7 separate regions of the Homo sapiens genome follow, and regions 1, 2, 3, 4, 6 and 7 are each reported to be linked to region 5. The links are microRNA targets in miRTarBase. Many come from high-throughput screens and were not tested one by one. Region 5 holds a microRNA gene; each other region holds the end of a gene's coding sequence.

What was found. Region 5 holds the annotated microRNA hsa-miR-103a-3p (AGCAGCAUUGUACAGGGCUAUGA, at 1,961-1,983, shown strand). A microRNA usually pairs through its seed, bases 2 to 8, with sites in the 3' UTR of a target mRNA and lowers its output. Matches are read on the target gene's strand: a 7mer-m8 pairs with bases 2 to 8, a 7mer-A1 pairs with bases 2 to 7 and ends in A, and an 8mer does both.
Region 1: the mRNA of NUP50 is a reported target of hsa-miR-103a-3p. Seed matches in the 3' UTR shown: 8mer at 3,221-3,228.
Region 2: the mRNA of RNF168 is a reported target of hsa-miR-103a-3p. Seed matches in the 3' UTR shown: 7mer-m8 at 3,436-3,442.
Region 3: miRTarBase lists RS1 as a target of hsa-miR-103a-3p. Seed matches in the 3' UTR shown: 7mer-m8 at 1,330-1,336.
Region 4: miRTarBase lists AXIN2 as a target of hsa-miR-103a-3p. Seed matches in the 3' UTR shown: 7mer-m8 at 1,093-1,099, 7mer-m8 at 1,249-1,255 and 7mer-m8 at 1,472-1,478.
Region 6: the mRNA of C2orf42 is a reported target of hsa-miR-103a-3p. Seed matches in the 3' UTR shown: 7mer-m8 at 3,620-3,626.
Region 7: miRTarBase lists ARL3 as a target of hsa-miR-103a-3p. The part of its 3' UTR that is shown has no 7-base or 8-base seed match.

The regions. Positions count from the first base shown.
Region 1 is chr22:45,184,187-45,188,412 of GRCh38, forward strand. It overlaps NUP50 (nucleoporin 50), which reads left to right. Exons shown (of 8, transcript NM_007172.4): 8 at 267-3,831. The coding sequence ends at 469. The region is part of intron 3 of LOC105373064 (a long non-coding RNA gene); the gene reads right to left. Among named protein-coding and RNA genes, the nearest start is that of MIR1249, 15 kb to the right of the region's middle.
Region 2 is chr3:196,468,290-196,472,289 of GRCh38, forward strand. It overlaps RNF168 (ring finger protein 168), which reads right to left. Exons shown (of 6, transcript NM_152617.4): 6 at 494-4,000. The coding sequence ends at 3,530. Among named protein-coding and RNA genes, the nearest start is that of RNF168, 33 kb to the right of the region's middle. RefSeq lists a silencer at 1,918-2,094.
Region 3 is chrX:18,638,378-18,642,377 of GRCh38, forward strand. It overlaps RS1 (retinoschisin 1), which reads right to left. Exons shown (of 6, transcript NM_000330.4): 6 at 1,311-3,779. The coding sequence ends at 3,627. CDKL5 (cyclin dependent kinase like 5) reads left to right here. Exons shown (of 18, transcript NM_001323289.2): 18 at 1-1,819. Among named protein-coding and RNA genes, the nearest start is that of RS1, 32 kb to the right of the region's middle. RefSeq lists a silencer at 2,287-2,456.
Region 4 is chr17:65,526,587-65,530,812 of GRCh38, reverse strand. AXIN2 (axin 2) reads left to right here. Exons shown (of 11, transcript NM_004655.4): 11 at 711-2,250. The coding sequence ends at 837. Among named protein-coding and RNA genes, the nearest start is that of AXIN2, 33 kb to the left of the region's middle. RefSeq lists enhancers at 1-270, 271-785, 2,608-2,902.
Region 5 is chr20:3,915,581-3,919,806 of GRCh38, forward strand. It overlaps MIR103A2 (microRNA 103a-2), which reads left to right and starts at 1,914; the gene lies at 1,914-1,991. It overlaps PANK2 (pantothenate kinase 2), which reads left to right. Exons shown (of 7, transcript NM_001386393.1): 5 at 1,347-1,470; 6 at 3,091-3,216. MIR103B2 (microRNA 103b-2) reads right to left here and starts at 1,983; the gene lies at 1,922-1,983.
Region 6 is chr2:70,146,546-70,150,771 of GRCh38, forward strand. It overlaps C2orf42 (chromosome 2 open reading frame 42), which reads right to left. Exons shown (of 10, transcript NM_017880.3): 10 at 3,340-4,019. The coding sequence ends at 3,811. Among named protein-coding and RNA genes, the nearest start is that of LINC01816, 23 kb to the left of the region's middle. RefSeq lists an enhancer at 2,388-2,917.
Region 7 is chr10:102,673,417-102,677,642 of GRCh38, forward strand. ARL3 (ARF like GTPase 3) reads right to left here. Exons shown (of 6, transcript NM_004311.4): 6 at 315-3,525. The coding sequence ends at 3,478. Among named protein-coding and RNA genes, the nearest start is that of TRIM8, 31 kb to the left of the region's middle. RefSeq lists an enhancer at 389-938.

The sequences.
Region 1 (4,226 bases), not on the chromosome of region 5:
GAGGCTGCTGGCTCTGAGAGAAACGCTGTGTGGGTGCAGAGACCCGGGCTGGAGGGAGGACGGAAGGCCACTCCTCACAGTGAGGGCAAGTGCTCCCCGAGGCCTCCCAGTTCTCAGGGAACCAGTCCTGATTTTGTGCTGTCCTGTTGGCTCCCTGTCTTAGATGTATTAAGTTATTTCAGCATTTAATGTTTAGCATATTACAGACTCCTTTGGTGGAGCTATAGCTTCTATAATTTTGATGGGTTTTGTTTGTTTGAATGCAGGCAACATATTGCTGAACGTTCTGATTCCACCCAATATGCCATGTACGCGAACAGGGAAGAATAACGTTCTTATCGTCTGTGTTCCAAATCCACCAATTGACGAGAAGAATGCCACCATGCCAGTCACCATGTTGATTCGGGTAAAAACCAGCGAGGATGCAGACGAGTTGCACAAAATTTTACTGGAGAAAAAGGATGCCTGAACACGCAAAGTCGGCTGCAGAATTATTGCCAAGTTGCTGCTGCTTCCACCGCCCCTTAAAGTTAGTCAGTTTTTCTTCTCTTCTTTGACATTCTAAGAACTTATAGATAACTTAAAACTTTTGTGAGGAAGATTAATGTGGCCAATAAAACCTTTAAATGTTAAGTGTCAAGAAACTGCACTCTCCCTTCTTAAGAACTGCCTAAAGTGTAAAATACATTTGAATGCAATTTTTGGAAGATTTTTTAATGTTCGTTTATTAAACTAACCCTAAGTGATTTCTTCAAGGACTGCAATCAGGGTATCAATTTGCTTTCCCAAAGGCTCTTCCAACCCGTGGGTTTTGGGGTCCACCGCCACCACGAGAGAGGCTTTTGAACAGGTGCCTGGCTGTGTTCAGAAGGAAGCTGGCCTGTGTGCTTCTCTCCGGTGGGCTCAGCCGACGTGTGAGACTTGTTCTGTTACCAAATGAACCGGGCTGCCACGCTGTGACAGGCGTTTGTCCTCTGCTTTATTTTTACTTTGAAGCTCAAATGCGAGTACTAAGTGTTCACCTCAGCGTTCGAATCATTGGCCTGTAACCCTGTGGGCTGCTTCACGAGAATTCAGGACCTGCATTTTCATTCTAAAAAGAAATGAACAGCTTGTGAAGGAGTTTTTTGGCTTCATAGTTTCTATTCATGAGGTAGTGTTACTTCTTTATCCCCCTAAAGACAAAATGAAGATAAAGGGGGATTGCCAGGAATGGGTTTAAAAGCACAAATGTGGTAGCTTATCATCTACACCATGGAGAGTGAACCCTTACGAAATGAAAGTCAAATGAGACCATCCGAGAAAAAGATGCGCATAGGCATTTGTACCATGATCAACCCCACGCACATGAAAACTGTGACCAAGTGACGTGCCTGGGAGCTTTGACACACGAGCCGTGTGAATTCACTAGGAAACATGTAATAAAGTCATGGAAGAGAAAATCGTGTGTAAACTTTGCCTTTAACTTTAGACCGCAGTATATTATAATACATTTGATATCTGAAATATCTTTACTTTTTTAAGAGTAAGATTCCATATGTCTGTCTGGAAGGGAGCCATGGTTATTCACACGAATATCCCTGTCACTTCTCCAGAGGTGTCAGGTAACTAACACGAGCATTCTTTGAAGACTCTGGGCACATGAATGATACACAGAATTGAATGTTTAAATTTCCACTGAGTCCTCATGAATCATTTGAGACTAGTACCAGCTGATCTTGTGTACAGGCTCAGGGTCAGTGCCCAAGGGCTCCCGCGTGTGTGTTCTGATCTTCAGTGCGTAGCACATTCTCCATTTAGAAAAGAGTGGTCAGAATAATTGTGGACGGTACAGTGGCTTTTTAAAACTACAGTCTTTAGGTGTAAGGTTTGGCGCCGGGAGCAATTTTATGATCAAATATGATGAACTCCTAAGTCACTGAGGTGTGATTGGGCCAATGTTGGCATGAGGTTCTTGCTCTACTTCCAGTGTTTTGATTCCACTGGGAGAATTTGGCCTAGTGTGTGGCTTTGGATGAATCCGTGTAGAGAGAGGTGAGCTTGTCCTGTTACAGATGCTGTCAGACATAGCGATAGTAGGCACCTAGGGAGGAAGTGGCCGTTAGTTTTACACTGACTTTTTAAGAATGGAGAATGCACGTGGGTTTCTGTTGCGGATGATTCATAGTAAGCAAGCGGTTGATGCTGTTAATACCGGCCCCACCCGATTGACATTAAGTTTATTCAGCTTTTAAAAAGATGAAGAACTAAGGGGAACAAATTTAAGTTTGTTGCAACTTAGCCACACATGCTTCCCTGGTACCAGCTGGAATCAGCAGCTCACAGGCATCTTCAGGACACTTCAGTGTATATGACACAGTACTTTGTTAGCGTCTGCGTGTGTATGGAAAGTTGACAAAAAATGGCATGAAAAGATCATGATTGGATTTTCTTTTAAACCTGCCCTTCTGTAAAAAATAGTTTATATATTTTTAAATTAGTAGGTATGTGTGGCTTCCTTTTTTCCTAACATTCCCAGCAAATTTTTGCTGCTAAGACTATCACTGTTAAAGTGAAAATTACAGGGAAAAATGTGATGAATATACCGTAACTCAAAATGTGATATTTTCTTAAAATCACTCTTTTATGCTTTAGGAACTGGTTGGTCTCCACTTTGATTATTAGTGTAAAGAGCCTGAGTATACGTGGATTTCATTGTAAAATTTAACTCCTTGTCTTTTACTTGGGGCACGGGGCCCCTGGAGGGCTTCCCTACTTTCCCCACTATGTTAACAGGTAATTCTGATTTATGCGTTTAGTTTGACTTATTTTTAACAAAATATTAGAAGTTATGCTTTAAAATGTTTAATGTGGACTGAAATTTTCATCTTTTGTTTGAGAATCTATGAAGTGTATCATATACGTGGCCTAAAGCAAGGTGTGTATTTTGTTATTCTGAAATTGTTTTGCATCTGGACAAATACTAAATATCCCAGTGGCCTTTTTTTTTTTTTTTTTAAAACCTGTGTATCCATCTCATCCTTTTGCGCATTCCTAGTAAGCAAAAAAATTTGTTATGCCATCTTCATTATTCGAATTACAGACTGAAAAAATATGGCCAGTTTTTAAAGAAGTTTAGATTATGTTTTCCATGGAAGGACAAGTCTGACTGTTCATAGGCTGATTTTCTTTAAGAGGATTATTCTGTTTTACAATTTCAATTCTAGATCACATTTTATATATGCTGCATGCCAAAAAAAAAAAAAAGAGAAAACTGCCTTTTCTGGTGTGGAGGGGAAGAAAAACTAATATTCTACCTTACTAGTAGAGTTCAAAACAAGTTTTCACTGAGAGCCTTTTCAGTAAAAGTTAAACAAGTTTGTTTTTTGAGCATTTGTCAGTTATTCTATTTCAGAAGAGTCAAAATTCAAGCACGATACATTTTGAAGGCTTTGCAAACTCCTAAACCCCTGATGAGTCCTCTCATTCTGGAAGTGGGAATTTGAGTAGATACTGATTTGTCCCGTAGTATGGCAGATGACAGGGAGGTCTTTTCCAAGCAGGCACTCAGAACACAGGTCACCGTATGTTCTCAGCCAGTAACAATCATACTGAGGACGAAGGACTCTCCGTTTGATGCAGACACAATTGTAATGGAGATGTAAAACTTCTTAGCAATCAGATGGATAAATTGTTTGCTTTTTACTTTAAATAGGAAATTGTTTTCTAAAACTAAAATACTTGAATTGTCAGACAATATAATCTCAGCTTGTATTAGTTTTTGAATGCTCCCATCGAGGAAGTGTAACAATCCATGAAATGTGAATAAATGAAAAGTAAACAAAATCCCAATGTGTGAGTCTTATGTTCCTCTGTGATGCACTTGGCATTAATACAAGTCAGACAGACCTGAGGAAGAAGAATCAACGCAGAAGCTGCAACCGGAAACTTCCTTGAACAACAGGAAGGTCAGCTTGGAGGTGAGTGAGAGACCAGTTTATTATCAGACTCCTTGTTGGGGGCCGAGACTACTTTTAAACCATTCAGACCAAGGGTTTCTGTTGGATTAAAATCTTAACAGATTGGAATGGGAACAATTGATCCTTAATGGGCTAGTGTGCAAAGCATTGGCTAGGTGCTTTATATGTATTACCTTGGTTAGTCCTCAAAGCAAACCTTTGAGACTTATTTTTTAACCTTTCCTATGTTACTCAGCATTTATTTGGTTTATAAGGGGTATTTTCTGG
Region 2 (4,000 bases), not on the chromosome of region 5:
TTTTTGAGACGGAGTCTCCAGTCTGTCACCCAGGCTGGAGTGCAGTGGCACAATCTTGGCTCACTGCAACTTCCGCCTCCTGGGTTCAAGCAATTCTCTGTCTCAGCCTCCCGAATAGTTGGGATTACAGGCACACGCCACCACACCCGGCTAATTTTTGTATTTTTAGTAGAGACGGCGTTTCCCCATGTTGGCCAGGCTGGTTTCAAACTCCTGACTTCAGGTGATCTGCCTGCCTCGGCCTCCCAAAGTGCTGGGATTACAGGTGTGAGCCACCATGCACGGCCGAGTTATTGGTCTTTTCTTAATGAACTGGAGGATACTTTACATAAAGGAAATTAGCTCTTTGTGATGAACTGCAACTATTTCTTCCCAAGTTTGCCACAGCTTCCAATTTCCCTTGATGGTAGTTTTTGTTATGCAGAACTTTTAATTTTCATGTAGCTGATTTTTACATATTTTTAAGTTGTGGTAAAATACACATAATAATCCATTTTTATTTTTAGTATTTTATTTTTCAGATTCTCAGCCTCTGCACAGCCTTAGTACTCCCTGAGAAATTCAGTGTTTGCATATCCTTTCCACAAAAATGAGAGGAAAAAGGACCAGTACCTGCTAGTGACTGATACATTTATTAGTTTCTAACAAAAAGGCATACATGGTAGGCAGAGTAGAAATACTAACAGAAATTAGTTTATCTTGAAACCAATTTTAGTCAGGAAGACTTCTTCACAGAGAATGAGCTGAATATATAAATCCCAAATATATCACACCATATATGTGATATATTTACACCTAAATATATCACACCCTCCTTTTTGGTCACAGACTATTCCAGGAAGATTAAATAGATAACGTTTAATTTGAGGCATTCAAGAATGTCCACCCTAAAACTGAAAGTGAAATTGCTCTTAGAGAAAAATTGGTTTGATGAGAAGATTGATCTTAGCCTGTCTCAGACAAATTTGGTTTATTTATTTTTACTTAACGACCCATGTGATAGTATAGTTGCAAGCTATACTTCATTTAACTACAATCATTACTCAGAGGACAATCACCTTAAGAGGCAAATTAAGTTTTAAATTAGCACAGAATTTATAATTACCCAATCAGCATTGACATAGATGCCATCAGGTATGCAAAGATTAACAAAATTCTATTACCAACCTTAGAGGAAAAAAACTTAATGACATACAGAAATACTGGCAAATTTAAGCTAGAATTAGCTCCAGGACATTTTATCTTATTTTCACATTAAAAGAATAGATTACTAGATATCAGCAGAAATGCTGTTAAAGCTATTTTTTACTAATAGTTGTTCATATTAATGAAACAAAAGATCAATAGTCTCTGAGCTAAATTTCACAAAATGAAATCAGTGTCTTCTGATTTAACTTTCAGGAGTAAGAAAGGGCAAAACCCAAGCACCATACTTTCTATTTCTGTTCATAAACTCAAATAAAAGCAGTATCAACACAAATGATCATATAAGAAAACACGTGGTTATGTTTCAGGTTCCACAACATAAGACACTGTGAGGTAACTCTCCTGTAATACATTCCCATTTTTTTCTGGAATAGCAGATGCATAGAAATGCAGGTTTCCAAAAATTCACCCAATTTAGTAACTAATTTTGATTCTGATGCCTGATAGTAGGGTGTGAAAAGCTGTAAAACCCAAATGTTTCCTGTGTTCTTTCACAAGGACAAGGGAAGAGGATGCTCTGCCAAACTGCCCCTGCTGCGTCATAGTGGACCAGTTTCAATGATCCAGACTGTCAGTCACCCCATCCAGCCTCATCCTCATCTGGACCCATTTCTCACCACCCAATCAGTTTCAATGATCCAGACTGTCAGTCACCCCATCCAGCCTCATCCTCATCTGGACCCATTTCTCACCACCCAATCAGTTTCAATGATCCAGACTGTCAGTCACCCCATCCAGCCACATCCTCATCTGGACCAGTTTCTGACCACCCAATCAGTTTCAATGATCCAGACTGTCAGTCACCCCATCCAGCCACATCCTCATCTGGACCAGTTTCTGACCACCCAATCAGTTTCAATGATCCAAACTGTCAGTCACCCCACCCAGCCTCATCTGGACCAGTTTCTGACGACCCAATCAGTTTCAATGATCCAGACTGTCAGTCACCCCATCCAGCCTCATCCTCATCTGGACCCGTTTCTGACCAACCACCCAATCAGTTTCAATGATCCAGACTGTCAGTCACCCCATCCAGCCTCAGCCTCATCCTCATCTGGACCCGTTTCTGACCAACCACCCAATCAGTTTCAATGATCCAGACTGTCAGTCACCCCATCCAGCCTCAGCCTCATCCTCGTCTGGACCCGTTTCTGACGACCTAATCAGTTTCAATGATCCAGACTGTCAGTCACCCCATCCAGCCTCATCTGGACCAGTTTCCGACGACCCAATCTGTTTCAATGATCTGGACTGTCAGTCACCCCATCCAGCCTCATCCCAGCTCTTAACTCCTTCTGCATAGTTCAGTTTCCTTTCTGGCAACTAATTCCCAATTTCCTAGAAAACCCTGATTTTCTGATTTAACACTGATTCGAATCCACTTTAAACCAAAGGAAACAGGCCGGGCGTGGTGGCTCACGCCTATAATCCCAGCACTCTGGGAGGCCGAAGCAGGTGGATCACCTGAGGACAGGAGTTCAAGACCAGCCTGGCCAACATGGTGAAATCCCATCTCTACTAAAAGTACAAAAAAAAAAAAAAATTAGCTGGGTAGCTGGGTGTAGTGGCACATGCCTATGATCCCAGCTACTCGGGAGGCTGAGGCAGAAGAATCGCTTGAACTCGGGAGGCGGAGGTTGCAGTGAGCTGAGATCGCGCCATTGCACACCAGCCTGCGTGACAGAGCAAGACTCTGTCTCCAAAAAAAAAAAAAAAAAAAAAAAAAAAAAAAAATCTGGGATTTCCCACATATGAATATGAATCCAAATTTTGAAACTCCGTCTAAAAAAAAAAAACAAACACCAAAGGAAATGCTACAATGCTGAAAATTGAATTAAATTGGAGATGGAAATTAGATTACTTTAGGAAAACCTTTTGAGTACTCTGTAAACATTGGACAATAGCAAGAAAATGGATTTTAAACCCTGCATGGGTTCCTTAATCACTCAGAATAGTATAATCTTGCTTTGATTACCAGTCACGACAAAAAGGTGAGCAAAGGCCATAAAACATGCAGTTTTTGGAAAGACAATGGCACTTGAAGATTTCCTGGAGTTGGCCAAAGCTTAAGATATCTCTAAGAATTGTAAAGCTTAATACACATCTGTTATTAAGAAGGGAAACGACAGGGGACCCCTGCTTACCGCTGAGCTGTGCAGAAGCTCATGTGTCTATGCAGTCCTTACAATCACACAGACCTTCATTAAGGACAATGAGTGTGCCTAGAGAGCAGCATGAATGACACATGGATGAAGATTCCATGATAGGAAAGAGCTTCACATTCCAGCTTTACTAGATCACAAAGCACTCCCTTTACCAGGCCTTACTTTGTGCATCTCTGAAACATCTGAAAAACACTTTTCTGTGAAATGCTAGGCTGTAGGGAGTGAGCACTTTTGGATACCTTACAGTGATCTCTAGTAGAATTTGGCATCTTTCTTCTATTAACTGACTGCTTCAACTGCATCTTTAAAGACACTTGCCTATTTTTGTCCCTTGAGCCTCTCTCTGGTGTTGGATGCTTTGTGTGAGTTTGCCTTTTGAAGTTCCCATCTTTGGGATTCTTCCTCTGTCCATTTAGCACTTTGTCTGGAGGGGAGGATGTAGCGCGTAAGTGATACTCATCTGGGGATCCTTTTTGCCGGTTTGGCACCATTTGCTCTTTATCCACCTCCTTCTGAAGTTGTAATGCCAATAACCTGTCCTGTTCTTCTTGTTTATGTCTCTCAAACAGTAGATGCTCCAAATCTATCAGTTTTTGGGTAAAGTTTATTTCTGTTTCCTCTTGATCTGG
Region 3 (4,000 bases), not on the chromosome of region 5:
CTAAAAATAAAAGTAAATATGTTAAAATAAGGTAAGAGTGAGTTTTTCCTACACTATGTATAATTTTTAATTGAAAGTTTCCCCCACAAAAGAAATGATACTTGGAAGCATAGTTTGTGTGTTTGACAGCAAGATTCTATTAGGCTTCAGATTTCCCTCAATAAAAGTTTTAGTTTTTATACATTCTGTCATGAATTGAATGAAGTAAATAATATGCTGTTGTAAGCAAATTATCTGCAGATAAATGTCTTATGAATCGTATATCTTACTGTTTATTAAATTCTGAAGTATTGAGCAGTTTCCAATGTGAAATCCCAGCTGGCTTCTTTGCAATGATGGACAAGTTAGTTATAATTCATATGGAAATTCAAGGAACCCAGAATAGCCAAAACAATCCCGAAGAGCAAAGTTGGAGGACTCACATGCCCCAATTTCAAAACTTACTACAAAGCTACAATAATGAAGAAAGTGAGGTAATAGAATTTGGAGTCCAGAAATAAACCCTCTCACATTTATGGTCAATTGTTTTTTGACAAGGGTGCCAAGATCATTCAATGGGGGAAAGAATAGTCTTTTCAGCAAATAGTGGTGGGACAACTGGATATCCACATGCAAAAGAATGACGTTGGACTCCTATTTCACACCATATACAAAAATTAACTCAAAATGGAACAAAGATCTAACTGTAAGAGGTAGAACTATAAAACTCATAGAAGAAAACATAGGGGTAAATCTTCATGACCTTGGATTTGGCAGTGGTTTCTCAGATATGACACCAAAGGCACAAGCAAAGAGAAAAATAAATTGGACTTCATCAAATATTTAAAATTTTGTGCTTAAGAGGACTCTATCGAGAGGGTTAAAAAGATCCACAGAATGGGAGAAAATATTTGCAAATCATATCCAATAAGGGAATTAGAATATACAAAGAATTCTTAAACTCAGTAAGTTGTAAGCCGATTTAAAATGGGCAGAGGATCTGAAAAACCTTTATCCAAAGATGTACAAATGGCCAGTAAACACATGAAAAGATGCTCAACATCATTAGTCACTAGGGAAATGCAAATCAAAACCACAGTTGAGATGCAACTTCACACATTATGGGTATAGTCAAAGATGGACAGTAACAAGTGTTGCTGAGGATGTGGAGAAAGTGGAAGCCTCCTACATTGCTGGTGGAAATGTAAAATGATGCAGCCACTTGGGATAATAGTTCCTCCAAAGATTAAACAAGAGTGACTGTGTGTCCCAGCAGTTTTACTCCTAAGTATATACCCAAGATAAATGAAAACACACATCCGCACAAAAACTTATACACAAATGTTCATAGCAGCATTATTCATAATAGCTAAAGAGTGGAAACCCAAATATCCATCAATGGATGAATGGATAAATAACAATGTGCTCTTGACATGATACTGAACAATGATGTTCAGCAATAAAAAGGAGTGACAAGTGACATAGTGATACACATGTTATAACGTGGATGAACTTTAAAACACTATGCTAAGTGAAAGAAGCCAGTCACGAAATACCACATACTATATGATTTCATTTATGTAGAACGTCCAGAAGGCCAATCTACAGAGACAGTCGATTCGTGGTTGCAGAGGGCTTGGGGTGGCCGATGGGTTGGGGAGTGTTGGCTGATGGGTGCAGGATTTCTCTTTGGGGTGATAAACTTTCTAAAATTGATCTAGTGATAATGGTTGCACAACTCTGAATATACCAAAAGTCATCAAATTGTACACTTTAAATGGATACAAATTGTATGTGAACTTAATCTCAATAAAGCCGTGACAAAAGTTTCCAACATGAACTCTTATTTGGAAAGCCTTTCTCCCTGCCTCACTGTTTCCTCCTCTCCTTTTTCCCTGAACTGCACTCTCTCGACTCCTGTGTTTGATGTGCCTTAACTCTTAGGATACTGCCATTTTGTCTGACAGTCCATGTCGTGACCAAAGTTAATTCACCTTTCCAAATAAGGGTCTCTGTTCAGGCATTTCTATCCAAAATAGATTTGTCCTGTGTCCTAAGGCCAGGGATAAGTCCCCCCACCCCCCCCCCCCACCCCCAACACCCTGTGTGATGTGTTTATATTTGAGAGAAGATTGGGCGGGGAAAAGCATTTTCCGAAGTTCAAGCATACAGCATAGGGACTAGAAAGATGCTGGGTTGGATATAAAATAATTGAGCCCCCAAAGCATCAAGAAGGATGTTTGGGGCTTTTAGAAGGCTGCCTGTTCACAGAAAAGGTGAATGTGTTGTCCAGCACTGTATTAGCGCGAGTCTAGTCACTTGCCTTGGCATTTGAAAATGAAAAGTAACTCGGAAATGAGCTGCTAGCAAAGACTACCCTGTGTCTGGGGCCAGAACAGTCTTTAGAGCAGCCTCGTCCTCTGATTCCACCACCTGCTCTCCATATCCCTCTCCTGCCCCTCCCCCGTGTTAACAGCCTCTCCCAGGAAGGGGCCTGGAAACTCAGGCTGCGCTCTAAGTGGCCAATGAGGCCTCCCAATCTAAGGCGCCGCCTCCAGGAACGGAAAGCCAGGCCCATTCCTTCCCAGAGAGCTTTTCAGGAGCAGGCGCAGTTTGCGTATTGCAAGGCAGAGGGTGGAGGGTGAGAAGCTTTCAGGGAAAAAGCTACATGGTCCTTTTTATGATGTGAGTCCTTCCCACTTCCTGCGAAGCATGTAGCCAGCTAATGAGCCTCCTCTGAGTAGCCAGTGGTAGCTCCTGGGCCAGCTGTTCTCGAACTATGTTTGGTTTGCTAGGAAATGGTAGCCCTAGGTAAAGGGCAATTGTACTGTGTTGTGGTCATTTGGGGTCCCTACATATACTGAGATGTGCAGCCTGTCCTGTATGATCACCTAAATGGTGACCACAGACACGGGGAATTTGCTGGAATGGATTGCATAATGGAGCTGTGTGTATTGGGCGCTCTGGTCCCTCCCCAATCCCTGTGTTCATGAGGGTGGAAGCCCAGATCCGCCTTGAAGGTAAGAACTGTGAGCAGAGGAAACTCCCCTACCTTGGGCTTTTGGTCATTTGTCACGTATAGCCTCTCAGGGCACCGGGATTCTCACCCACCGCACTCATCCCTGCCACCCAGTCACCCTTGAGACCCTCAGCTGCCTCCCCAGGGCTCTGAAGTCCTCTTTGGCGATGATTTAGTGGAAACTTAACTAGGAGGAGCTGCTCCCTTCTGCATTCAAAGCCAGGCTTTAGGAAACTGTATGTTTCTGTCTTGAATGTGGTAAAGCAAATGAATTTTCAAATTATCAGGGCTGCTTTGTGTTCCCCTGAGACTGCACCTTTCACAGTATCACTGAGACAAAAAATGAGCAGAAAATTACCCCTGCTACTTAGGCTTTTGTAAGAAAATTCGTTTCGGGGACATTTTCTTTGTTCTGACTTTCTCTGGCCCTGAGTGGGGAATAAGTTCATTTTTATTTCATTGAAATCAGAAAGCTATATCTTAAAAAAAAAAAAATTATCTACCCAGCACTGCAGTTACAATTGCTTTGCGAAATATAGCCCTGTCCATCTCGGTGGTGTGTGAGGGGGTCCCCTACGGCCCGCTCTGTGCCAGTCACCCCCTGGCAGGCGCCGAGCTGAGGCAGGCATCAGGCACACTTGCTGACGCACTCCAGCAGCTCCATCCGGATGGCAATGCGGACGTGCCAGCCCAGCGGGATGAGGCGGATGAAGCGGGAGATGATGGGGGGCCGCAGCAGGTTCTGAACCGTGGAGGTGCGGTCCGAGTTGCCATAGAAGACCTAGAGAGATAGAGGAAATCCTGTCACCATCACATCGGGGAGGGAAAAGGAAGAAGGGTTCCTTTCTGGAGCTAGCCCCAACTTTTAACTATAGAAATGATTAGGAAGTAGTTAAAGCAGTTTGCGGGTGCCCCCCAAAATCTGACCTTGAGTGATTGTCATCACACCTACATGCTTGGGACATCTGGAACTGCACCATCCAATAGGGTGGCCACTAGCCA
Region 4 (4,226 bases), not on the chromosome of region 5:
TTGACCCTGGAGGGATGGGATGGGAGAAGAGGCCTGGAAATGGGGAGAAGAGGGGAGGGCATCATGGGGCCAGTGCCGTCTGTTCGGCCCTGGGAAGCTGCGCTGGGCTGGCTTGCCTCCTGTGTGGCTGTGCCAGGGCCATCCAGGAGTGTTGCACTTGGGACCTGGAGGATGGGAAGGCCGAGAGGCCTTTGGACTGCTAAACCATCTGGAAGTCAGCCTTTTACAGACTTCGGCAGGTTCCGGCTCTCCAGGTGTGATGGGTTCAGGATGGCTGAACCTGGAGATAGTCTGGAGTCTCTTTGAAGGACCTGCTTGGCTCCTGCTGCAAAGGAACTGCAGGCATTTGTCCTTCCCTTCCCTCCCCCACCCCACTGCTGAAAAAGGTTGGCGGGGGGAAAGCAGCTCTGCTTTTCACAGTGTATACGTGTCAGGAGACAGCAGAGGTGCTGGGTTGAAGATTGCAGGTGGCAGGCCCAGCCCAGGCTGCTGCTCAGTGGGTGCCTGGCCTTCATCATCTCGGCCCACCTGCTTCTTGTGGTGTGGCCAGTCCCAGCTGCCGTCTTAAAGCAGATGTGCGCAACAGTGTACAGGCACACCTGCCATAGCAAATTCCTAGGATACCTCAGTCCTCCATGTTGGTATGCTTTTCTTTTCAACAATGTGGAAAATGCAGTTTACCAAGAAGCTTTTTTGGTTTTCCTTTTAAGGTATTACTTCAAAAAAGCAAGCGATGAGTTTGCCTGTGGAGCGGTGTTTGAGGAGATCTGGGAGGATGAGACGGTGCTCCCGATGTATGAAGGCCGGATTCTGGGCAAAGTGGAGCGGATCGATTGAGCCCTGGGGTCTGGCTTTGGTGAACTGTTGGAGCCCGAAGCTCTTGTGAACTGTCTTGGCTGTGAGCAACTGCGACAAAACATTTTGAAGGAAAATTAAACCAATGAAGAAGACAAAGTCTAAGGAAGAATCGGCCAGTGGGCCTTCGGGAGGGCGGGGGGAGGTTGATTTTCATGATTCATGAGCTGGGTACTGACTGAGATAAGAAAAGCCTGAACTATTTATTAAAAACATGACCACTCTTGGCTATTGAAGATGCTGCCTGTATTTGAGAGACTGCCATACATAATATATGACTTCCTAGGGATCTGAAATCCATAAACTAAGAGAAACTGTGTATAGCTTACCTGAACAGGAATCCTTACTGATATTTATAGAACAGTTGATTTCCCCCATCCCCAGTTTATGGATATGCTGCTTTAAACTTGGAAGGGGGAGACAGGAAGTTTTAATTGTTCTGACTAAACTTAGGAGTTGAGCTAGGAGTGCGTTCATGGTTTCTTCACTAACAGAGGAATTATGCTTTGCACTACGTCCCTCCAAGTGAAGACAGACTGTTTTAGACAGACTTTTTAAAATGGTGCCCTACCATTGACACATGCAGAAATTGGTGCGTTTTGTTTTTTTTTTTCCTATGCTGCTCTGTTTTGTCTTAAAGGTCTTGAGGGTTGACCATGTTGCGTCATCATCAACATTTTGGGGGTTGTGTTGGATGGGATGATCTGTTGCAGAGGGAGAGGCAGGGAACCCTGCTCCTTCGGGCCCCAGGTTGATCCTGTGACTGAGGCTCCCCCTCATGTAGCCTCCCCAGGCCCAGGGCCCTGAGGCCTGCTAGAATCACTGCCGCTGTGCTTTCGTGGAAATGACAGTTCCTTGTTTTTTTTGTTTCTGTTTTTGTTTTACATTAGTCATTGGACCACAGCCATTCAGGAACTACCCCCTGCCCCACAAAGAAATGAACAGTTGTAGGGAGACCCAGCAGCACCTTTCCTCCACACACCTTCATTTTGATGTTCGGGTTTTTGTGTTAAGTTAATCTGTACATTCTGTTTGCCATTGTTACTTGTACTATACATCTGTATATAGTGTACGGCAAAAGAGTATTAATCCACTATCTCTAGTGCTTGACTTTAAATCAGTACAGTACCTGTACCTGCACGGTCACCCGCTCCGTGTGTCGCCCTATATTGAGGGCTCAAGCTTTCCCTTGTTTTTTGAAAGGGGTTTATGTATAAATATATTTTATGCCTTTTTATTACAAGTCTTGTACTCAATGACTTTTGTCATGACATTTTGTTCTACTTATACTGTAAATTATGCATTATAAAGAGTTCATTTAAGGAAAATTACTTGGTACAATAATTATTGTAATTAAGAGATGTAGCCTTTATTAAAATTTTATATTTTTCAAAACACTGGCCTCGTCTTTGAATCCCCAGGGTGGGAACAGGGCCGAGGGGCCCTTTTGTGTGTAGACATCTGTGCTTGATTTCCTACCTTGCCCAAGCCCGTCTCTGACCTTGAGCCCTGACCTGATCTGGACCCACCTGGAGGTTTTGTAAAGCCATTTATTCAAATCACCTGGCTACTGGCTGAGGCTTTTCTTGCCTTGGAGCAGGCTGTAGATGACATCTCCTTTGGGGGTCCTCTTCCCTGTAACACCTCCATTCAGCCTCTTCCTCCTGGGCAGATTGTCTCCAGTCCGGCCAGGTAGGTGCAGGGGACCAGGGGATGAGAGGAGGCCCTCCCAGGAGTTTCAACAGGTGTCTCCGACATGAAAGCCGTTCAGCAGATGGTTTCATAGACCTGGAATGTCCACGTGGGGCCAATGGACTTAGAGATCAAAGCTAGCCAGGCACCCTCCCCATTCTGGGAGCTGATCAACAAGGCTGACTATTAATCCTATCAGTATTTTATCGTGAGCCATCAGGCTCAGGGCCGGTCAGGTGTCGGGAACATAGCAAGGAGGTGGTTCAGGAGGAGGCGACACAGGCAGCTTCTGCACCGCTCGGTGGACAGGTGTGCTTATGTGGCCAAGGACCTCGGCAGGCAGTTGCCCGCTCAACAAACGTGCCCTCCCTGTATCCTGAGCACTTGGCCTGCATGCCAGGCCATACTTTAGATCTGGGAAAGCAGGTCTTTTTAGTGGAGTCCTAGGAAGAACCCTTTTTAAAAACAGAGGATCTGTAACTGCAGTTGGACTTGACTTCTTGTGTGCTGAGTTTTCATGAAATGAACTCGGTGGTCTGCAGTGGATCTGCTTGGCTTGTTCTTCCTGCTGCCAACTGGCGTCAGGCCGGCAGCATAGAGAAAGGCCAGGGTTCTGGCCATGCGGGGTAGGGATGGACTCGAACCCAGTAGCCTCGGAGTGGTGGCAGTAGTAGGAGTTGTCAAGGCTGCTGGGAGAGTCCTGAGTTACCCTCTGAGAAGGCGAGGATGTGAGGGCATCTGGCAAGAGGCTGGAGGAGCTCTGATGCCTTGAACTTGTCCCTAACCATGCAGGTGCTGTGCCCTCCCCTCCTGGCTGGAATGGGGGTTCATACCAGGGTGTCCAACACTTTCCGAATTGTAAACTTCTTTCCAAGACAAAAGGATGAAGAGATGCAACCTATTGTGTGTGGTGAAGATTGGGGTTTGTGGATGGCTTTTCATCTCTATCTTCAGGCCTCTTGATTGAGGAGAGTGATGAGGTTGGGGCTTGGGCCTCAGACAAACTGGACTGAAGGCCCAGCACCACCACCCTCTGGGTGCCATGAGCGGGTTTCTGGCATCTTCTAAGGTGCATTTGTGAGAGAGAACTGGACTAGTTGATCACTCATGTTTCTATCTCCTGTTTTCATTCTTTTTTTTTTTTTTTTTTTTTTTGAGACAAAGTCTCACTCTGTCATCCAGACTGGAGTGCAATGGCGCAATCTCGGCTCACTGCAACCTCCACCTCCTGGATTCAAGCGATTCTCAGGCCTCGGCCTCCTGATTAGCTGGGATTACAGGCGCCCACCACTACGGCTGGCTAATCTTTGTATTTTTTTAGTAGAGATGGGGTTTTGCTATGTTGCCCAGGCTGGTCTCAAACTCCTGAGACCTCCCAAAAGTGCTAGGATTACAGACATGAGCCACTGCACCTGGCCCCTGTTTTCATCTTTAAACTTTTTTTTTTTTTTTTTTTTTGGAGGCAAGAGTCTTGCTCTGTTGCCCAGGCTGGAATGCAGTGGCACAATCTCAGCTCGCTGCAACCTCCGCTTCCTGGGTTCAAGCGATTCCCGTGCCTCAATCTCCCAAGTAGCTGGGATTACAGGCATGTGCCACCACATCGGCTAATTTTTGTATTTTTAGTAAAGACTGGGTTTCGCCATGTTGGCCAGGCTGGTCTTGAACTCCTGGCCTCAAGT
Region 5 (4,226 bases):
CCACCACGCCCGCCAGTTTTAGCTCTTATATTTAGCTCTTATATTTGATCCATTTTGAGTAAGTTTTTGTGTATGGTGTGAGGTAGAGCTCCAAGTTCATTTCTTTTTGCGTGTGGATATCCAGTTGTCCTAGTACCATTTGTTGAAAAGATGATTCTTTCCCTGTTAAATTCTCTTGGCCCCTTTGTCAAAAATTAGTTGACCATAGATGTTTGGGTTTACTCCTGGACTCTTAAGTTATGTTCCATTGATATATATGTCTGTTTTTATACCAGTACCATACTGCCTTGATACTGTAGCGTTGTATTAAGTTCTGAAGTAAGAAAGTGTGAGTCATCCAACTTGTTCTTTTTTCGAGATTATTTTGGCTATTCTGGGTACCTTGAGAATATGAATTGTAGGGTTAACTTGGCAAGGTCTGTAAATAAGACAACTGGGATTTTAATAGAGATTACATTGAATCTTTTGGCCATCCTAATACAAAGTCTTCTGATCCAAAAAGATGGAATGTCTTCCCATTGATTTAGATCTTTGCTTTCTTTCAGCAGTGTTTTGTAGATTTTATTGTACAGGTGTTAATACTTTTGTTAGATATATCCGTAAGTGTTTTATTCTCTAATGCTATTATAAATGAAATCATTGTCTCCATTTTGAGATCGTTTAGAAGTACAATTGTTTTTCGTATATTGGGGCACATGGCTTTTACTAATAGAAAAATCATATGTATACATGCTTGTTTACTAAGTTTTAGGCACTTGGTCAATGCTGTTGATTTTCTGTTTGTAACATTTGCTCGTTGGTCATCACTTCCTTTTCTGATTGGAAAATTATTGTAGCAGTTCTGCTGAGCATGTACTTTGAAGTACTTTATCTTCTAGGGAAACCTGAAATTCTTAAGCAGCTCACTCTGGGACTCAGCTGTCTGTGCTTTACTCTGCTCTGATAGAGCAGTTTACCAGATGTGCATGTGGCCATCTGAGTGGAACAGCTGTGCAGTTGAGATGAATTGCTGTTAGAGGTGTTGTCCTGGAACTGTCTGGTTGCAGGAGCAATGGTGCCTTCCAGTGCATCTGATGAGATTCTAACTGAATATGTGAATATCTGGTATCCAAGCTAGATTTCAGTAGAAACCGCAGGGAAAGCTGTCTGCTCATTTAGAATGTTGGAGGGCTCTGTTTGAAGTTTGCATTTCTCTTTGAACAGATGCTCCATTGCAAAATAAAAGGTTTGAAGATTTCAACAATGTTGCCCTAAAAGCTAATTTTATTTCAATAAAGTAACATTCAAGTTCTGTTGGGCTTTGTTGCTGTTGGTTTAGCAATGGGATTTTTTTTCCCCCATCACAGCTTTGGAAACATGATGAGCAAGGAGAAGCGAGAGGCTGTCAGTAAAGAGGACCTGGCCAGAGCGACTTTGATCACCATCACCAACAACATTGGCTCAATAGCAAGAATGTGTGCCCTTAATGAAGTAAGGGGACATGGATTTCTTTAATTGCTCTAAGGAAAATACTGAACTTAAGTGGGCCCCATCACGTCTGTTTTCTCAGAACAGTGCCTAAATGTAGTCATTTGGGGTGGGGTTTGTTTTAGCACGAAGTTAAAACTCTTCAAATACAGATTAATCTTCTTTTTTTTTTTTTTAAACTGAAGATAAACATTGCTACTTGTCTAGAGGTAAAATGACATCTTTTGAGGAGAAAGTAGAGGAAGAGTGGAAGGTAGCCAGTGTTCCAGATATTGGGGACTGTTGGGGGTGATGATGGATAACGATGCTGAATGTAGACTCCACACTCACTGCTGAGCTCTAGAGGCCCTAGGGAGGAATCCAGAGGAAGTCACGGAAGCTGGGAGAAGACTGAGCAGGCCGAGGGGTGCCCTCCTTGGCTCCCCCACCTCAGCAGAGCTGCGTCTTTGTGCTTTCAGCTTCTTTACAGTGCTGCCTTGTAGCATTCAGGTCAAGCAGCATTGTACAGGGCTATGAAAGAACCAAGAATGGGCTGCCCTTGGGAAAAGAGGATCTAGGATCCAGTTGGTGCAGCTTATGGCTTGTCCCTGTGTGTATAGTTGTTAAATTATTCTTTTATTTTTATTTTTAAGAAGTTATTCTTTAGATAATAATAGGCATGTAGCTTAAAAGGAAACCTCAAAAGACACAAAGGATTTGTCTCATTTTAAATTAAAAAAATACTGTATCAGCATCAAGTAATTAAACATTTGTTGGAATATCATAACTTCTTTTTTCTTTATTGTATGTTCCCTTTCCTGTGCTTACGTATTTTCAGAAATTTTAGTTGGTGTGCATACCACAATTTGTATTTTATACTTAAATATACATTTCATGGTTGTATATTTATTTGATCAAGTTCTTTTATATCAAATAACAGAGCTTGGCATTTGGTTGCTTGCTCATAACTCGGCAGTAAGCATTTTTAAGCATGAAGTTATTCTTTGGTTGAATTTTATTCTTGATATGGGGCTTAGGAGTGAGATTTCTGGTCTACAGAAATGATCATGCTCATGAATTTTGACATTTATCGTCATGATGCTTTGCACAAGGGCTGCACCAATTTAGATCATCTTTAGCGGTGAATGAGTGGATTAATTTTACTACAACTACTGATGGTGGTGGTGGAATTTCAGTTGCTTTTTTTTGCGAGGTTAATAGGTCTAAAATTTTACTTTTGTTTGATGACTAGTGGTTTGAATTTTTCGCTGCCTGTTATATTGCTTGTATACTTTGCCTGTTTGTGTCACTGTCCTTTTGGATTGGAGTCATACTGTTTTTTTTTGTTTATTTTAACTTATCTGTATAAAACATTGTATTCAAAACTAGTTATTGTTGGTCAGATTTAATACAAATGTTTTTCCTAATCTGTTTTCTTCTCCTGTGACATTATCTAGCATGCTTTGCAGTGGGTCCAGAGTTGTCTGGGGATCAAGTTTAAGTAGCCCTGGACCAACTGGACTAAATTTGATCAGCAGTCAAATTGTTGCTAAGAGCTATGCACATGGTGCTGTATTTGGGGTAGCTTTTATGAGAAAATAGAAATTAAGATGAAAACTAATTGCCTTTTTTTGGTGTGCTCAGAACATTAACCAGGTGGTATTTGTTGGAAATTTCTTGAGAATTAATACGATCGCCATGCGGCTTTTGGCATATGCTTTGGATTATTGGTCCAAGGGGCAGTTGAAAGCACTTTTTTCGGAACACGAGGTAAGCTGACTTGTTCGTTGTGGTATATTATGTACACAGAGGGCTTGTGGGTCACACTGTCATGGAACTTGAGGTAGAGGGTGGAGGTGAAATGGGCTGCAGTGTTTCTTTTGTTTTTTGTTTTTTTGAGACGGAGTCTCGCTCTGTCACCTAGGTTGGAGTGCGTGGCACAGTCTTGGGGCTCACTGCAGCCTCCGCCTCCTGGGTTCAAGCAGTCCTCCCACCTCAGTCTCTTAAGTAGCTGGGATTACAAGTGTGCGCCCCCACACCCTGCTAATTTTTGTACTTTCAGTAGAAATGGGGTTTCACCATGTTGGCCAAGCTGGTCTGGTCTCAAACTCCTGACCTTAAGTGATCTGCCAGCCTCAGCCTCCCAAAGTTCCAGGATTACAGGTGTGAACCACTGTGCCTGAACTTTTTTGGTAGTTTAATTTCGTAACATTTGAAAGCTGTTTCTTCCCTGATACTAATGCAAGGTAAATTTTGGGTTAATTTAATTGTAAGCTTAAGGAATTTTAGAGAAAAACCCTTGAACATTCCCCTATATTTCTGATGCCATATTTTTGTCTGAACTATCCTCTATATTTTTTCTATTGCACTGACTGTGTCATTACTCTGGGTTCTGGTTTTTTCATTTTTTTCAGTGCCAGTTTTTATATATTGTTGTAATTCTTGTGCCAGTTATTTAAGATGCATGTTGTAAAAATGAATAGATGAGTAAACCTCTCAGACTAGAACCATACTATCATAAGAACTTAAGTACAATTGTAGACAGGCTGGAAATGATGAAATGGAAAAGAATCAAATTGCTCAACCTCATAGCCTGTCTTGGAAAGCACTCTTATTTTTCCTATTTGGGGAAAAAGAAGCAGAGGTATGGAAAGGCGTGTAGGGGTTCTTTCTTCCCTTCTTGGTTGTGGGGCAGTTGAACTATTCTTTCAACTGTTCTTGGATTTTAGATACTGTTATTATGAACATTTTTCAGAATTGTATTGCATATTTAGTTTAAC
Region 6 (4,226 bases), not on the chromosome of region 5:
TCAGGTATTACTAGAGCAGGCATCTGCCTGTCACCCACAGGTGTGTTTTGTGAAAAAGCTGTGACTGATGTCCTCCAAGTTTTCAGGTTGAAGGATTTCTCAGGATGGCCAACCACGGTCTTTCCTTGGGTGTTCCTGCTCTTCAGGCAAGCCTCTGCCTTATCTAGTTTTTGTTTGTTTGTTTTTTTTTTTTTTTGAGATGAGTCTCGCCTCTATGGCCAGGGTGGAGTGCAGTGGTGCGATCTTGGCTCACTGCAACCTCTGCCTCCCAGGTTCAAGCGATTCTCCTGCCTCAGCCTCCCGAGTAGCTGGGACTACAGGCACGCGCCAACACGCCTGGCTAATTTTTGTATTTTTAGTAGAGACGGGGTTTCACCATGTTGGCCAGGATGGTCTCAATCTCTTGATCTTGTGATCTGCCCACCTCAGCCTCCCAAAGTGCTGGGATTACAGGCATGAGCCACTGTGCCGGGCATGCCTCATCTAGTTTTATCTTCTCCACCTATCCAAACCCTTCCTCTCCTTTGAAGCCCAATTCAAGTTCTAGGTCTCTGTGCACCTCCCTGGATTCTCAACAATTTTCCCTATTGTCTGACGCACTTAGGAGCTGACACAAACCAGCCCCTCAATCCCAGAGGGTAGACAACACAATGTGGTTATTCCTTCTCTTTTAGAGGCATAGTACCTCTCTTACCAAAAATGTCTCCCCCTCTGTTAGGCCAATCAGTGCCTTTTTGGGGGCTGGGAGGGGTTCTGCCTTTTGGATCAGAGAGTGGAGCAGTGAGTCCTGCTCCAGTGAGGAAGCCATACATTCAGGCACTTCAGGAGCCAGAATTCCTACTAGGGGAGCTGCTCTGTGCTGAGATCAAATGAAGCCCCAGAGAGAGGCAGAAATGGGTCAGATGGACCCTAGCTCCACAGGTCCCGAGGCCCAGCCACATCAGCTCCAGCCCAGTGTGGTTGTCTAGCTCTGCTTTAGTGTCCACAAGCCAGTCATTCATACCTATTTTGCCCAAGCTGGTTAACTGGCTTTCTGTCACTCGCAATTCAAAGTACCTGGTATGGCCGAGCGTGGTGGCTCACGCCTGTAATCCCAGCACTTTGGGAGGTCGAGGAGGGCAGATCACGAGGTCAGGAGTTCAAGACCAGCCTGGCCAACATAGTGAAACCCCGTCTCTACTAAAAATACAAAAAAAAAATAAAAAAAATTAGCTGGGAATAGTGGCGGGTGCCTGTAGTCTCAGCTACTTGGGAGGCTGAGGCAGGAGAATCGCTTGAACCCAGGAGGCGGAGGTTGCAGTGAGCCGAGATCACGCCACTACACTCCAGCCTGGCGACACAGTGAGACTCCATCTCAAAAAACAAACAAAAACAAAGAAAGTACCTGGCACATAGTAGGCATGCAAGAAATGTTCATTCCCTTCTTTCCTCCTTAAAGATAGGCTTATACTTCTGGGTCTTTCAGTATCTCTATTCTGTGATCATTCAATCAGAAACAGCAATTGAATTTTACTAACTGAGAATATATAGAGATACAAGTATGAAGTGAACAAGCTATTACAGGCATTAGTTTTAAACAGCAATATTCCCTTGATACCTGTGAGAGGTGACAGCGTGCTGGCAGTCCTCAGAGCCCTCGCTTGCTCTCGGCACCTCCCCTGCCTGGGCTCCCACTTTGGTGGCATTTGAGGAGCCCTTCAGCCCCCCACTGCACTGTGGGAGCCCCTTTCTGGGCTGGCCAAGGCTGGGAGGTGTGGAGGGAGAGGCACGAGCGGGAACCTGGGCTGTGTGCGGCGCTTGCGGGCCAGCTGGAGTTCCCGGTGGGCGGGGACTTGGTGGGCCCCGCACTCGGAGCAGCCAGCCAGCCCTGCTGGCCCCGGGCAATGGGGCACTTAGCACCTGGGTCAGTGGCTGCGGAGGGTGTACTGGGTCCCCCAGCAGTGCTGGCCCACCAGCGCTGCGCTCGATTTTTCGCCGGGCCTTAGCTGCCTTCCTGCGGGGCAGGGCTTAGGACCTGCGGCCCGCCATGCCTGAGCCTTCCACCCACTCCATGGGCTCCTGTGCGGCCCGAGCCTCCCTGACGAGCACCACCCCCTGCTCCACAGTGCCCAGTCCCATCGACCACCCAAGGGCTGAGGAATGTGAGCGCATGGCGCAGGACTGGCAGGCAGCTCCACCTGCAGCCCCAGTGTGGGATCCACTGGGTGAAGCCAGCTGGGCTCCTGAGTCTGGGGGGGAATGTGGAGTCTTTATATCTAGCTCAGGGATTGTAAATACACCAATCAGCACCCTGTGTTTAGCTCAAGGTTTGTGAGTGCACCAGTCGACACTCTGTATCTAGCTGCTCTGGTGGGGACGTGGAGAGTCTTTATATCTAGCTCAGGGATTGTAACTACACCAATCAGCACCCTGTGTTTAGCTCAAGGTTTGTGAGTGCACCAATCAACACTCCGTATCTAGCTGCTCTGGTGAGGATGTGGAGAACCTTTATGTCTAGCTCAAGGATTGTAAATACACCAGTCGGCACTCTGTATCTAGCTCAAGGTTTGTAAACACACCAATCAGCACCCTGTGTTTAGCTCAAGGTTTGTGAGTGCACCAATCGACACTCTGTATCTAGCTGCTATGGTGGGGCCTTGGAGAACCTGTGTGTGGAAACTCTGTATCTAACTAATCTGATGGGGACGTGGAGAACCTTTGTATCTAGCTCAAGGATTGTAAACGCACCAATCAGCACCCTGACAAAACAGGCCACTCGGCTCTACCAATCAGCAGGATGTGGGTGGGGCCAGATAAGAGCATAAAAGCAGGCTGCCAGAGCCAGCATTGACAACCCGCTCGGGTCCCCTTCCACACTGTGGAAGCTTTGTTCTTTCGCTCTTTGCAATAAATCTTGCTACTGCTCTCACTCTTTGGGTCCATGCTGCTTTTATGAGCTGTAACACTCACCGCGAAGATCTGCAGCTTCACTCCTTAGCCCAGCGAGACCACGAGCCCACCGGGAGGAATGAACAACTCCAGACGCGCTGCCTTAAGAGCTGTAACACTCACCGCGAAGGTCTGCAGCTTCACTCCTGAGCCAGCAAGACCACGAACCCACCAGAAGGAAGAAACTCCGAACGCATCTGAACATCAGAAGGGGCAGACACCAGACGCGCCACCTTAACAGCTGTAACACTCACCGCGAGGGTCCGCGGCTTCATTCTTGAAGTCAGTGAGACCAAGAACCCACCAATTCCGGACACACCTGGATCTCTTTTTCCAGTATCACTATCAGTTAAATCCCGCCTCCCCCCCCCGAAATTTATAATTTTATAAACAGGCAACCATGAGATATAATTAGGAAAAACTAGTGACACTGCTTTATTTGAGAACAGAATAAAGAGCGTGGCTGGAACTCTGCCAAGATGGTCTTTAACATTCTGCCCTAACCAGGGTGTTAACTTTCCAACACTGTTGGTGTATGGCTGAGTGCTGCAGATTTCTCAGAGAATTAGCAAAAGGTTGAAATAAACGCTAAAGATGAGTCCGTAAGAAGGAAAATAAGCTGGTTTTCTTTCTGTTCCTTTTAAAACTCTAGCCAGAAATACTGCCCAATGCATAATGAAGACTGTACACAGCAGCATCAAAAAGGCTATTTACAAGAGATTTTCTTCAACAGAATCCACTTGAAAGCACTGAGAATTTGCATCTTAGCTAAGAGCAGTTTACCAAGGAACAGGGCCATCTAAGTGCCTAACTAGCATTTAAAGTTGTCAAGGGGTGGGGATGTGCAAATTAAGCAGCAAAAGATTATTATCTTGTTTTGCTTTAAGGGAAAGTAATAGTGGTCAGAGGGGCCAGTTCCAAGGGCTGGTCCAAGGGGGGCCGCTGGTCTTGGTACTCCGCCACATGCCCATTCCGGTGGTGGCCATACTCAAACTTGATCCGCAGCTCGCCAATCTTAGATTGGGGAAGGATATCTGGGATCCACTCGATGATGAAAGGTGTTGGCTCCTTTTGATCTGGGGAAGTGTTGCCTAAAGAGAAGAAAGGAGTATTAGTACAATTCCACCTAACTCTAATGGGTGTTCCTAATTGCAAAAAAAGTGTCCGGAATTGGAGCAGCCTGTTCAGCTTTGATAATCAGAAGGCCGAATGAGGTTTATAAATTCAGTGGTGATTGGGATATCAGATTTATTGATCATCATGAAGTTTTTGGGTTATTTTGTTTTTTTTGAGACGGA
Region 7 (4,226 bases), not on the chromosome of region 5:
TGAGCATTGAGACCCAGGCTCCAGGCCCCACCTGCACTTAAAGGCTCTGTGATTTCAGGCAAATTCCTTAACTGGGGCAAATGTCTCAATGTCCTCTGCTGCAAAGGGGGACTAATGCTCACCACGATGTATCTGAAGTGCCCGGCACGTAGGAGGGGCTTAATGAAGGGCTATTATTGCTATTGTTGGTATCCTATTTTATATATATATCCTTCTGGAAAAAACCTCTTGAAGAAAGCTAACCCCTGAAAGGACAAACACATTTCAGGCCCTCTCTGAGCTTCAGCAAAGAACACAACACATTCCAGGCTGCCTTCGTTCCAGCTAAATTTTATTTGTCGGATTTTTGACAGACGTCTAAATTATACATTGAGTTTTCCACATGACCAAACACCACATCTCTTCCTTTGATTATCATTTTCAAAAGGGATTATAAAAAAAGAACCTTTTGATGGATCAGACTGAACCCTGAAACCACATGGAGTGCAGAGCTAAAAATAAAAGGAAGTAAGAACTGGTCCCCGAGAAGGAAAGGAAAGGGAAATCAAAGCAAACTCTGACGGGAATGGAGAGACGAGTCCTGGTGAGGGTGACATGGTGTCACCCTCCAGGCCAGGCCGGATAAGGAGCGGCCAACAGTGAGGGTGGGGCGCAGAGTGGCACAAAAATAGCCACTACTTTAGTCCAGAGGGGAATAAAGAAATTTGTCAAAAGCAAGGAGAGAGAAGTGGAGACGGAGGGAGGGAGGAAGGAAGGGGGCAGGACCATGTCCTCCCAGCAGCCGTGGGAGCTGCGGACTCCTTTAACCCTGGCACATTTCTAACCGCCGGCATAATCGCTGACTTTCAGCTGTGCACCGACATGTTCCCCAGCTCAGCCCACATCAATGACACCCTTGTTTCCATAGTAACCAAGGGAGAGTGAAGGGGAAAGGGTGTGTTGCACTGGGTGCAGGGAATCCAGCCAAAAGCAGCCACACGGGGTAGGTCGGGAGGAGGGGAGGACTCGAGTTTTTCCCACAACTGGCTTGAGCACATATCACGAGCACCCCCCAGGCCTTGCCTGCCCTCCGGCCCCCAGCCCTCTCCCCCGCACATTCAGATGCAATTGTGCGCAGGGCAAAAGTCTCGCTAAGACTCACTGGGGACAGGAGGAGGGGAAAAGGGGTCTTCCCTTTCCAGCTTCAAATTCTGTCTTCTGGTCAGGGGGCAGGAGTGGGCAGGGAAGAGGCAAGAGGGCTTTAAAAAGTATTTTGTTTTTAAATGGGAGCTTTCAAACTCTGCCTTTTTCAGGCTTCTCTCATCTACCCCAGAGCCCCAGGAGGGTTCAAAAGGGCTCAAAGGGAAGATGAAAGCGTGTGACATCTGCAGTGTCTCTGTGTCTCTGCAGCTGAGAGCAAATCAGAACATTTACAGAGGCCGTTATCAGAGGAGTGGCTTCTGCCTGCTAGGAGAGGCCTTGGGATGGCTCTTTAAAACAGTCCCCTAAGTTGGTGGTAAAAGAACAAAAATATTTTACAGACCCTCCAATGCCAAAGTTCCATACTGCAGTGTTCCAAAATTGCAGACCTCCAAGCAGGCATTTTGCCCCTCAGATAACTTGTCCCTGCTGAACTATTCGGAAGAAAAAACAATTTGCAAGTGCTAGAGCCACATTTGCAGCCTGGTAGAAGGGGGATTTCTGATTCCTTATAATTCTGTGTTGCCTCTGTAAGGGAGAGCTTGGGTGAGCCAGAGAAGCCAGTGGAGGAGGCTGCAGAGAGCAGCTAGCTCTGAGGTTAAAAAAACCCCTCACTTTCTTTTGTTTTGCAAGTCCTTACAGGTCTGTCCACAGCAACTCTGGGGCACCTTTTCACGGCTGGCTTTGTTAATGACTTTCATGTCAGATCGCTTTTGAAGCTGGCTATGCCTCAGTCTCTGCTGCACTCTTAGCCAGAAGCAGCTGGGTATTGAGGGCCAGGGGCTGCAGCGGCCCCTTCAGTCTGCTCACACGCCCTGATGGGCTTGGGAAGGGCCACCTCCCAGGATGAGAAGGCAGCTGGCCCCCAGGGACCCACCAGTCACTGGACAGTCTCTTATTCATTCTCTGAAAACCCCTGAGCTCAGGCACCAGAACAGAGTTTAATTCAGGAGCCGGGCAATGCTCTGGCCTGTTTCCCCATGTTTGAAGCTGAGGATTTCTGAGGTTCAGGGAAACAAGCTCGTTTTGCAACGAGGGGCAGGAGAAATGTTCTGCTATTCCTCTCCAATCAATCAACAGAGGACGGACATTCTGCTGCAGAGAGGCAGAGGAGCCCAGCAGCTGGGGTGACTCTTGATTCCTTGGACACGACCCCTGCAGTCACACACACACCCATGTCCTCCCCAGCAGCAAACCCTCTCCATCCAGGAGCATCCCACACCACCAAGTTGCCAGCACTGTAAAAATTGATCTAAAAATCGATCTGCCTGGCTTTTCTCAGTGGAGCAGGTTCATGGTAAAGCTGCATTTATTTCTAAAATCTGATAGCAGCGGCCTATTGTGATCGTTTAAACACAGAATTCTTTGAGCTTTAGAAATCCTGTCTATAGGACGGCCGTGGAGAAGCCAGCTAATCTCAGAGTCGGCTGCTCACTGCTCCACTGAGCTGGAGAAAGCCTGTTTACGCTAGCCTGAGCCCTCGATGTGAGAGCTTTTTAAGGACCTTGTAATTTTTCTGGAATTAAACCTCCCACCTCTCCTTACATTCCAGATGTCATTACAGTCAAAAGTCATAAGAATTTGCTTCTCTGTGTGGCTGGCTGGGGCAGAGGCAGGGGTGGGTGGGATGGGGTATGTTTCTGTAGTGACTTGTCTGCAAGAAAGACTTTTTTTTTTTTTTCTGTCCAAAGAGTGAGGATTACATACGTAGTCTCCGACCTGCAAGACGATGAGATGGTTTAATTATCTGCCTTTTCTCCCCCCACCCCCACCCAGCAGCTTCCTGTCGGACAGACTGAAGCCTGGCTGGGCTAGTGACGGTAAAAATCACTGACAGCACCAGCAAACACTGTCTGTGGTTTCAAAACCATGGAGGGAATGCAAGGGACGGGTCAGTAAATAAATGAACTCAGCAAAGCTGCTTCTTCCTCTTTTTCTTTTTCTTTTTTTTTTTTTGAGAGGAAAAAAAAGCCCACTGGAATTGTCTAAACTGCAATGCAATCTCTTGCTCATTTAAAAGATCTCATTTTCTAATCATGTGCTTTGAGACATTTAATACTATTTCAATTATGCAGAGGAAATAATATAATTCCTTTATTTGAAAAATGATACTGAACCTCAGAGATCAGTTAAATCTACTGCTGGAATGGGGATTCTTTCTAAACCGTGTTGTTCCCTCTCTTCAAACAGCTGGAGCTGTACACAGATGGAAAAACATTTGGTCAGAAAGCAGCAAATTAGTGTTTTTCAGGACCGAATTCGGCTCCCGCAGCTCCTGCATCTCCATTCGTCTAGATTTTATTTCTTCTTTGCATTGACATTTTTGCAGACCCAGTTCATGCCATCCTTTGAGGGAAATGGGCAGAGAAAGGCAGTGTTAGTTATAAGAAAAGCACCACACACTCTAGCCTGGAGGGGCGGGCAGTGGGGGTCCCAGGCCCTCCCTCCCAGACCGCCAGCTTTAGGGAGTTTGCTTGGCTCAGGGGCCCACCTGGGTGACCAGGGACAGTGACCTCCCAGGAGGAGGAGGAGGGAGGTCTCTGAGAGCACAAGAGGGCGATGGGAGGGGGATGCCCAGCGCCTGAACTTGAGATGGGTCCTCAGGAACTCCCTCTGAAAAAATAAACACATCTGCCTGCATCCAAAGCCTGACTGAAGAGCTATCAGGAAAGATTCCAGCCATTTTTGGCTTTTTCTAAAAGGTGACCTTTGCCAGGGCATTAAATTCAATAAGCCACCCTTTTGGTGCCCCATGTGTTTACAGTGTGACAGTGTACACTTGGGTTAAATTAAATTTCTTTTTGGAAAAACAAACCTACTGCAGTGAGTGTTGCGAGGCACACACCAGGGCGATGTGCATTTACTTCTCTTCCTGCAGCACTCCAGATAGGTTTAAAAGGGTCTGGCCCGCTTCTTATAGCTTTAAGCACCAGCATCCAGAGGGACTGGGGAGAAGGTTCCCTTAAAGGCACAATGACCTTGAAAGCGCCCTCTCTTAGAAGGCTGAAGAGGGACCAAGGTAAAAATCACACAATGCCTACAGCTAC